Linked DNA regions of Homo sapiens. The protein of the gene in region 3 interacts with the protein of the main gene of each other region in a pairwise test. Each region holds a gene or a part of one and is shown on either strand. Other genes may lie near its edges.

What was found.
Region 1: the proteins of RRBP1 (region 3) and ATF7IP interact in a two-hybrid assay, tested with the Homo sapiens proteins (one large-scale study listed by IntAct).
Region 2: the proteins of RRBP1 (region 3) and SMAD9 interact in a two-hybrid assay, tested with the Homo sapiens proteins (one large-scale study listed by BioGRID and IntAct).

The regions. Positions count from the first base shown.
Region 1 is NC_000012.12:14,498,182-14,501,681, reverse strand, and holds part of ATF7IP (activating transcription factor 7-interacting protein 1), read right to left. Parts: 3' UTR 1-3,500. UniProt on the Homo sapiens protein: Recruiter that couples transcriptional factors to general transcription apparatus and thereby modulates transcription regulation and chromatin formation. Can both act as an activator or a repressor depending on the context.
Region 2 is NC_000013.11:36,875,085-36,878,813, reverse strand, and holds part of SMAD9 (mothers against decapentaplegic homolog 9), read left to right. Parts: intron 1-3,729. UniProt on the Homo sapiens protein: Transcriptional modulator activated by BMP (bone morphogenetic proteins) type 1 receptor kinase. SMAD9 is a receptor-regulated SMAD (R-SMAD).
Region 3 is NC_000020.11:17,658,222-17,661,950, reverse strand, and holds part of RRBP1 (ribosome-binding protein 1), read left to right. Parts: intron 1-1,422; 5' UTR 1,423-1,443; coding exon 1,444-3,355; intron 3,356-3,729. UniProt on the Homo sapiens protein: Acts as a ribosome receptor and mediates interaction between the ribosome and the endoplasmic reticulum membrane.

The DNA.
Region 1 (3,500 bases), on a different chromosome or scaffold from region 3:
CTCTCTGTGAGGCAAATGGTATCTCAACAAATACCGACTTTTCAAGGAAGAAAGCTCTCCACTTCTCTCATAAACTTATATACTACCTTAAACAGTATGCAGTATTCGGCATATTTTTTAAAAATGAGTCCAGAGAAATAGAAGGATATAGTTACCTCATAAAGTTAACTGTTAGCAACAGACGTCTTCGTATGTGATTTATAAATTTCTTGGCAAGAACAAGATTTTTAGAAGAGGCTTACTCACACTTAAGACAGAGTGAAAATTACTCTCACAGAATGCAAAGTATAGAATAATAAACATCACCATTACCTTTAAATGCCATACAAACATCCTACATTGCAGGTTGCAGTATCAGGTTTCCAGAATTTCCAATAAGGCAATACCTACACAAATATTGCCAGGCTAAAAATGTAGCAAACTTGCATTCCCAAACTGGGAGAATCTAGCTTATTTGTAATACTTTGTGAAAAGATACTATGAAACTAAAAAGGTAACCGTGGAGTGGAAACTGCTACTAGAAAGTCTGTTATCAGTAGCTACTTCTACTTAAGTCCTCCATTCTCTCCCAGAAGAAACAAACCAAACAAAAAGCATCTATCAATATTAAAACCTGCCTCAATAAAAGCCTAGTGTTCTAACTTAGCACCTCTAGTAAATCTAATATAGCTGCTGCCCCTACGTGCCATGGTAGGCTAATTTGAGGACACCATCTTATAATAAATATACTTCTCCCCTAAATAATTGCGATTTCTCCCTGTACCTTCCTTCCAACTGGAATAAAACATTTTAAGTAGTTATTTTACTTTAGTAAATATTTTTAGAATTCCTATTTGAGAATTTGTTTTCCTTTGACAGAAAACATAATATAGGCTAGGCTAATGAATTTTTTTTTTATTCTACTGGGCTTTCTTCATCTGATTATATAATGCTATGAAAGCTTTTTTTAAAAAAGATTAGTAAATATAAATAAAAATGTTCATCAAGAGAACCTTTTGTAGGTTAGGTAAGAAAATTGTTACCACGTGACCATAAAAACACCCAATAAAGAACAATTTGAACATGGGCCTTCAGTTTTGTAGACAGGAATAATCTTGAACACATATCAACATTGCAACCACTGCAGGTCAAAACATATACATGCAGATATAGACAGGTGTTCATATACATCTAGAAGATCATCAACTCCTCCTTTCTGAAATTTTCATTGCCATAACACTGGCAACTTCTTTACCATCATCATTAGTCCTAGAATGAGTAATATCTACATAATTGGTTGGCAAATTTGATTTATAGCATACTCCTTTGTGGTCTCATTTTCTGAGAGTGAAAGGTGGTTTGGAGAATTAATTTTTTGGCAATCTATAGGCTTTCTTCATCATGAATCAAATCTCACACCTCAGTATACTGACCAGTCAAAAGTCTCTAAAGAGTTTTCTTTACAACTAGAATACTTCCTATTATAAGCCATCAAAGTTGCAAACAAAACAACATTAGTAAAAGAGCTCCCTCCTGTAATTCTAGGAAAAATGAATCACTATTTTGAGAAGGTACAAATATGAATTCAAATATTGTAAAGGAAGAGGACTTCGAAGTTATTTCACAAACTCCATAAATTCCTTTCAAAATATTCTCAACCACATTCTCCTCCTAAAACTTAACTCAGCCCTCCAGTCCTAAATTATCTACACCCAAAACACCTACCTGACACCAGTACAGCTGGCCCTCATATTAAAAATCCATGACCTAAGCTGAATTTTAATAACTTTGAAGAGGAACAGAGAGATACACAGGAGGTTATATCTAATTGTTACATAAAATGACCTCAAAGGATATACTTTAAATTCTTTTTTTTTTGAGGCAGAGTTTCGCTCTTGTCTCCCAGGATGGAGTGCAATGGCGCAATCTCAGCTCACTGCAACCTCCGCCTCCCGGGTTCAAGCGATTCTCCAGCCTTGCCTCCTGAGTAGCTGGGATTACAGGCATGCACCAACATGCCCAGCTAATTCTGGGATATACTTTAAATTCTATCCAAAGCTAACAATGGGTACATCAGACTCAACTTGGCACCATCAAAACAAAGTTAAAAGGTTAAAATGGGAAGGACGATAAAGAGAATAAAGAGGAAATGAAGCTTTCCCCTTGATATTTTAGCTCATTCTATATTGTAATCTTACTATTTGCTTCCTTTGAAAGAATACTAAGGAGTTAGTGTTGGGTGATAGCTTTGGGTGATAAACTGAACTAGAATGGTTTTCATAATCTCTAACACAGTGTGCAACACGGATACTAAAATGTGTGAAAAACTGTCTTCCACAATATGGTTTTCTCTTGGTCCACTTTACACAAAGTTAAATAGTGACCAAAAATAAAAGCATCTATAGTTTTAGAAGAAAATAGCACGTCAAATTTTTGGAGTTAAATGTGATTGTCGCCACCATGCCCGGCTAAGATGAGACTATGCATGCACCTGTGTGTGTGTGTACATACACATCCATGTACATACACACACCTTGGTTTAAAAATCACTTGAGTAGGCTGGATACAGTGGCTCACAACTGTAATCGCAGCACTCTGGGAGGCCGAGGCGGGTGGATCACCTGAGGTCAGGAGTTCAAGACCAGCCTGGCCAACATGGTGAAACCCCATCTCTACTAAAAATACAAAAATTAGCCGGGCATGGTGACAGGTGCCTGTAATCCCAGCTACTCTGGGGCTGAGACAGAAGAATTGCTTGAACCCAGGAGGCAGAGGTTGCAGTGAGCCAAGATTGTGCCACCGCACTCTAGCCTGGGCAACAAGAGCAAAACTCCATCTTAAAAAAAAAAAATTACTTGAGGAGTTGTGCTATATTTGGTAGAGATGAAGGAGAAATCAAGGGTAAAAGGCTGCAAGGGAAGACTAAGCAACAACGGACATATGGCCATATTTATTTATTTATTTTTGGCCATGTTTATCTTTGTAGTTAATCTTTAAGGCACAAAATAAATGTAAAAGCCAGATTAGGAAAGGGAGGGGGCCATTGCAGATCTTTTTTCACCTAATTAACAACTCAGGAGACCAGACAAAAGAAACAACAAATAGATCCTTTCCTGTGTTCGAATTAACCTATTTTAAACTATTTAGCCATTTTGTTTTTTATTTATTTCTTTGGGTTTTGTTTTGATTCTGTTTGACCCACTTAACTAAAATGATACTATAGATCCTTCAAAAGCAGAATCATGCCAGTTACACATCTCAAATCCTTTGATCTACTTACTTCGTACTTTAAGAGGTAAATTTGAGAATGAAAATGGGAGACTCCAATGCAATAACACCTACATAAGGAAAAACACACATAAACACCCACACATATTCCCCAGCCTCAAAACTAAAGCAAGGTACACATTTACATTTCCAAACCCCAAAGCCTAAACTGTCCAGGAAAAGATTCTAGCTTTGTGGGCTGAGTTTATTTTGCTTCTGGTTATAAACAAATGTAGTGTATACACACATCTGTC
Region 2 (3,729 bases), on a different chromosome or scaffold from region 3:
TCTTGGGGTCCTGAAAGGTTTTAAAATGGCCTTGATAATGATGAGCTGTAAAAATTAAACATCCTCCTCCCCCCGCCCCAAACAACTGAACTGAACTGTACTAAACTGAACTAAGGCAGGGTTTTTGGCTGCTACTTTGTTCAAGTTCAGGTAAGTAGAAGATATCTCATGTCTAGGTCTGAAAACAGCCAATGAAAGAGTTGCTGGAAATCATTCCAGGCAGTTATTTTTAAAAATGGTTTTAAGTACAGACAGGTATCACTTAATGATGGAAATACATTCTGAGAAATGCATCAGTAAGTAATTTCTTCCTTGTGTGAACACCCTGGAGTGTACTTACACAAACCATGAGCCTGCTACACCGTTAGGCTATATGGTGTAGCCTATTGCTCCTAGGCTACTAACCTGCACAGCATGCTACTGTACTAAATACTGTAGGCAATCCTAACCACAATGGTATTGAATGTATATGAACAGATCTAAACATAGAAGAGGTACAGCAAAAGTACAGTATCATAATCTTGGGGGACCACTGTCTTATATTGGTCCCTCAAGCAAAACATGATTACACAGTGCATGATTGTATAGGAAAGTATCTTTCTAAAACCCTTCACACCCCTGTGTGTGTGTGTGTGTGTATGTATATTATATATATGTGTGTAAGAAATATGTATATATTTCCTCCTCCTCTTGGAGAAGCCTGGTGTTTGTCTTTGTTCCTTCACACTGGCTATAACAGGGTTTCACTGTGATTCTCTTAGATTGAGTGTTTCTGTGGCATTTCACACAAGAACACAGTTTTAGGAGAGCTTTCTCTCTTTGGCCATCTGCCTCATCCCAGGAAACCAAAGCGCTGGCACATTAGCTCAGGGAAATTGCCCATGTCCAGTGAAGAGATGGTCCTGTCTACGTAGGCAGGTTCACTTAACCTTAAAACAGTATCCAATAAGTGATTTATGCCCAGCCTACCTCAGTCTTAGCTAAGTGATCCTTCAAGCTCCCAGAACTTAACATCTACCTGTGTGTGGATGCCTCCCACAGCCCATTCAGGGACTGAGGCCCTGGCTGAGAAGGTATTAGAAGGTTCCACATGCTTGGCAAATCTGATGCGTTTCCCCTAAATCCTGGAGCGAGTTGCTTTCCACCCTTCTTCCCTGGTTCATTTTGACTCTTTTCGCTTACTTAAAAAAAAAAGTCAATAATGTCTAAGCTTATAACAAAAATGACTGGATTCCATTTTGTGTTTCAAAGATTTGAATTACATTAAGCATCCAAAATATATCCAAATGGAAAAATGTTCATTAATAAATCATTTCTGTCTTCCTGAATAATGTAGTTGTAAAATTTAACAACTTGTAAGAAATATCTTGTAAAATGTACCTGGTTTTCCTTTTGAATATTCAAAAGCCTAATTTTAAAGAACTATTTGACATTTTAGTTTTTCATGTCTTTTGTTTTTTTGTCTTGCTCTGTTGGCAGGCCGGTGTGCAGTGGCGCAGTCTCTGCTCACTGCAACCGTCACCTCCCCAGTTCAAGCGATTCTCCTGCCTCAGCCTCCTGAGTAGCTGGGACTACAGGCACGTGCCACCATGCCCAGCTACTTTTTGTATTTTTAGTAGAGACGGGGTTTCACCATGTTGGCCAGGATGGTCTCGATCTCTTGACCTCATGATCCACCTGCCTCGTCCTCCCAAAGTGCTGGGATTACAGGCATGAGCCACCATACCTGGCCTTTAGTTTTTCATGTTCTGTAAGATTCTTTTAGGAATGATAGTGTGAGTGTTTTACATATGGTAAATATATTTCATTTTATCATAATTTAGGTGTGAATTTCCAGAAGGAAAGATGGGTAACGATTATATTAATTTAAGGTAATATTTAAGTTACAGAGGTTTTTCTTACTTGTGTTTTTTTAATAGAAAAAGTAGATTTTATATCTAGTTAGCTATCCATATTTAAAGTAAATATTTTAGGAATAATAAAAATGTTAATGTTAAACAAGTTTGCTGAGTTCCTATTTATCATAAAGCTTAAGTTTTGCCTTTGAAATCTCATTTTTTAGCCATCCATTTTAGATACATTGAAGGCTGCATTCCCATTTTCTTTTCATTCACACATCCACTTCAATAATTGACTTCAGTGCTTTCCAAGTTATGTGTGGTGAGGGATCAGTTTTTATTTTTTTAATTTCCAGTCCTTCAAACGAACACTTTTATAGTACAGACAAATTACTAGGCAAATGAAATTTTAAAAAGACTTAGAAAATATAAGCCCAATTTTAAAAATTATTTAAACAAGTGTAAACTAGAAACTCTGTCAAATTGCTGTGAAAAGTTTCTAAGTACTAATTTCTTCACAGACTCGTACCCAACAGTTGGTGAAGGGTCCCCAGTCCTCAGACACACTTTACCTGGCACAGTTCTGGTGGAAGCCATGCAAGACTGTTGTTGTGGTACATGATGATTTTACTCCATTTGGCTGGAGGTTATTTCAGGAGTGTAATTTCTTTTTTATATAAAATATTCATATTATATCAAAACCACATGACTTTTTTTAAAAAGACAGAAGTGTTTTTTTTCCAGCTCTGCTTTGCATGCCCATGTGCCCTGTAACTCCTTCCGCTGTCTCCCCCCGTGTGACACTGAGATGTAAAGATAGCATGGTGTTTAAAAGTGGCATAAGATAGGCATGAGTGTCTGTAAGCGCACTGTCATATTTACAAGCAGCAGTTGAGATGTGGAAGTGGAATTAAGTAATTAGGGATAGCTGTGTTGTGAGTGAAAGTATTTAAAAATATGATCAGTGCACATTTAAGGCAACGGAGCCAGTCAGGTCAAATAACAACTAGGATGAAACTATCAGTTTTCTTTGCAAACATCCACTGGCTTTGATTTTACCCAGATGGTAAAAATATATTATCAAGATAGTTGTTATGATAAAGGGAAATGTATCCTTTCTTTTCTCTTGGTGCCTCAGATCTACAGGCCATGAAGAAATAGAAGTCTCTACATTCAGATGGATAGGAGGCATTATATTTTTATCAGTGTTAGGAATATACCGTAGATATTTTACATTAAAACTGAAGTCACAGAGATGATTCAAATTCTTCTTCATAAAGAAGTGAGTGTTTACTTGAACATCGTTAACATTTTGATGAAGGGTCATTGACAAAGAAGCCATACACATTCGCTGTGTCAACTCCTCACTTCAGACTATTCATGAGGCACATAATCTTTTTTTTTCCTGCATAGTTGTGGAATATGAATACATTAAGGGGAATTTAATGGTTTATGATCCATGTCACTGTTTGATGGTGATGTTGAATGTTTGTTCTCTGGTGTCATAAGGCAGCATACGTATACAATAGCTTAGAAAAGGGGAAGAAATTATTTGTTTCTCTGCCACCCTCACCTGTAGCAGTTTTAGTTTAAAACCTTTTATTTACCCTTCTTAGTTTATTTTCTGTCCATATAACTGAAAATTATTGTTTGTTAAGAAAGAGATAGATGTATGGTGTCAAAGGCAGATGGCAGACTTCGGGGTTAATGTCATTGTTATTGTAATTGTCTGTTTATTCCAAAACATTTACCTTTTTTTAAGACTTTATTTTTTAGAGCAGTTTTAGAACATTTACTTTTTATGAGTTTTTATTAATACTTGCCTGTGGTTGACAAATCAGTGGTGTGATTAGAACCAAGATCTGTCCTATTTATACCCGGAGACAAACTC
Region 3 (3,729 bases):
AGACATTGAAAACAGTCTCCCTTCTCAGTCCCTTCTTTAAAATGCCCTCATGTCAAAATTTGGATTTGATTCCTACTCTGTTTCCTTCCTCTATAACCACTCAAGAGGAGTGGGGATCTCAATGTCTTAGGAGAAGAATCTCAGTATCTGAGCCACTAAGCAGCCTGGACCCAGTCTCCCACAGCATCTAGAGGTTTTGCAGGGCAATGCTGGGGGAGGCCTGTCCACTTCCCCTCCTCTCCTCTTCCACCTCCTTTTACCTCCCCTTAACCACCCCTTCTTACCCTTGTGTTCTCTTTGCTCATTCCATCGATCTTCTTTAGAGAGACTCGGGACTGGCTTGAATGTATCCAAATAAATACACCTCCTGGAGTTCCTCAGTGAAGTCGAACTTAGCCCGGGCTGTGGCAGGAAGGTGTATGAACCTGGATGCCTCTGACCCATTGGACTTTGGTCCATAGGCAGTGAGAATGGTGTTGTTCATTCTTATGGTTTGGGGAGTGTTGTCTGACAGAGGGGCCTGCTGACACTGTCTCCTCACCCTCTGTGCAGCTTCTGGATGTGAAATTCCAAACCTGGCATCTTCTGGGCCTCCCAAGACTGATTCTTCCTGTTTCCCAACATGCAAATTGCAGGCTCCATAACTCCTCAGGAGCTATTGCTGGCAAAAGGCTATTTTCCCTCACTGAATTTTTGAACACGTTTCAGGATTGTAATGCAGAAGTTTTTATCTCTGATCCTGGGTAGCAGCATTTATTGGCACTGGGGAAGAGGGAAACAACAGAGTGGAGATGGCACACTGTGGGCCTGCTGGCTAAAATGCTTGTGGCTGAAAGCCTGCAGATGTGTTTGGTTTGGTTCGGTTCACATATTTTTTAAATCAGTCAATTTCACGTTGAGAGAAAAATTTTTTAAAAGTGTCTGGCCTAACATGAAAAATCAAAACATCTTCCAACTCAGCAATCACATTTCTAGGGCAATCGGCCATGACAGAGTGTCACTGTCTAATTTTAGGTGGGGGCGGGTGTTTTTACTACAGTCTCCACCACTCCCCATGGTCTCACACCTGGCCTGTGTTTGTGCTCCTGTGCATCTTTGACCTTGGGTGGGGAATATCTTGCATCAGGGTCATGGCTGCTGAGGCTCCTGGGCGTGTGTGCTCCAGAGATAGGCCTCCACTCTGCTCTGACTCTGCTGTTGCTTTGTATGGGGACTGCTCATGCCTTGGGTACGAATCGCTCACTCCTAAAGAGGAGCAGGTGAGAATGTGGGACATCAGAGAGTGCCTGGGTTTGTTTCTTCTCTGAATTTATTAGCCTGAAGAAAGAATTAGTGAAACCTGAAGTTTGGTGGTAGGGTGGGGATAGAAACTGTTGAAGGCCTTGATTTCTATAAATAGTAACCTCCATGTATGTTTGACAGGTGAAAGGAAAGCAAGCCAGGATGGATATTTACGACACTCAAACCTTGGGGGTTGTGGTCTTTGGAGGATTCATGGTTGTTTCTGCCATTGGCATCTTCCTGGTGTCGACTTTCTCCATGAAGGAAACGTCATATGAAGAAGCCCTAGCCAACCAGCGCAAGGAGATGGCGAAAACTCACCACCAGAAAGTCGAGAAGAAAAAGAAGGAGAAAACAGTGGAGAAGAAAGGAAAGACCAAGAAAAAGGAAGAGAAACCTAATGGGAAGATACCTGATCATGATCCAGCCCCCAATGTGACTGTCCTCCTTCGAGAACCAGTGCGGGCTCCTGCTGTGGCTGTGGCTCCAACCCCAGTGCAGCCCCCCATTATCGTTGCTCCTGTCGCCACAGTTCCAGCCATGCCCCAGGAGAAGCTGGCCTCCTCCCCCAAGGACAAAAAGAAGAAGGAGAAAAAAGTGGCAAAAGTGGAACCAGCTGTCAGCTCTGTAGTGAATTCCATCCAGGTTCTCACTTCGAAGGCTGCCATCTTGGAAACTGCTCCCAAGGAGGTGCCGATGGTGGTGGTGCCCCCAGTGGGTGCCAAGGGCAACACACCAGCCACTGGCACTACTCAGGGCAAAAAGGCGGAGGGGACTCAGAATCAAAGCAAAAAGGCTGAAGGAGCCCCAAACCAGGGCAGAAAGGCAGAGGGAACCCCAAACCAGGGCAAAAAGACAGAGGGAACCCCAAACCAAGGGAAAAAGGCAGAGGGAACCCCAAACCAAGGCAAAAAGGCAGAAGGAACCCCAAACCAAGGCAAAAAGGCGGAGGGGGCCCAGAACCAGGGTAAAAAGGTAGATACAACCCCAAACCAGGGGAAAAAGGTGGAGGGGGCCCCAACCCAGGGCAGAAAGGCCGAGGGGGCTCAGAACCAGGCCAAAAAGGTAGAAGGGGCCCAGAACCAGGGCAAAAAGGCAGAGGGGGCCCAGAATCAGGGCAAAAAGGGAGAGGGGGCCCAGAACCAGGGCAAGAAGGCCGAGGGGGCCCAGAATCAGGGCAAGAAGGCCGAGGGGGCCCAGAATCAGGGCAAGAAGGCCGAGGGGGCCCAGAATCAGGGCAAGAAGGCCGAGGGGGCCCAGAATCAGGGCAAGAAGGCTGAGGGGGCTCAGAACCAGGGCAAAAAGGCCGAGGGGGCTCAGAACCAGGGCAAAAAAGTAGAAGGGGCCCAGAACCAGGGCAAGAAGGCTGAGGGTGCCCAGAACCAGGGCAAAAAGGCCGAGGGGGCCCAGAATCAGGGCAAAAAGGCCGAGGGGGCCCAGAACCAGGGCAAGAAGGCCGAGGGGGCCCAGAACCAGGGCAAGAAGGCCGAGGGGGCCCAGAACCAGGGCAAGAAGGCCGAGGGGGCCCAGAACCAGGGCAAGAAGGCCGAGGGTGCTCAGAACCAGGGCAAAAAAGTAGAAGGGGCCCAGAACCAGGGCAAGAAGGCTGAGGGGGCCCAGAACCAGGGCAAGAAGGCCGAGGGGGCTCAGAACCAGGGCAAAAAGGCCGAGGGAGCCCAGAACCAGGGCCAAAAAGGAGAGGGAGCCCAGAATCAGGGTAAAAAGACAGAAGGGGCTCAGGGCAAAAAGGCAGAAAGGAGTCCCAACCAAGGCAAAAAAGGAGAGGGAGCTCCCATCCAGGGCAAAAAGGCAGATTCGGTTGCTAATCAGGGCACAAAGGTAGAGGGTATTACAAACCAGGGGAAAAAAGCAGAAGGGTCCCCCAGTGAAGGCAAAAAGGCAGAAGGGTCCCCCAACCAAGGCAAAAAGGCAGACGCAGCTGCCAATCAGGGTAAAAAGACAGAGTCAGCTTCTGTCCAGGGCAGAAATACAGATGTGGCCCAGAGCCCAGAGGCACCAAAGCAAGAGGCTCCTGCCAAGAAGAAGTCTGGTTCAAAGAAAAAAGGTGAGCCTGGTAAGTAACTGATTTCTTTATGAACTTAGAAGGAAAGGCTGTCTTTAAATGACTTATGGATTCTCTCGGGGAGTGCCACCTGTATCAGTCAGCTATTGTCATAATAAGGCTGCGTAACAAACATTCAAAAAAAAATTCAGTGGCCTTCAACAGCAGTCATTTATTGTTGCTCATGCTTCTGGAGGTTGGCAGATGTGAGCTTTCTCGGTTGGTGGCTCTGCCTCAATCTGGTTTTAACTGGGTTGGTGACTCTTTGCTACAGGTTGAGCTCAGGTCAGTTCCATGTGTGGTCCTTCTGGCGCCCTCCAGGGCAGAGGCCCTTCATAGTTACAACAGAGGCACAAAAGGGCATTTCAAGTCAGCATTTCATTGAC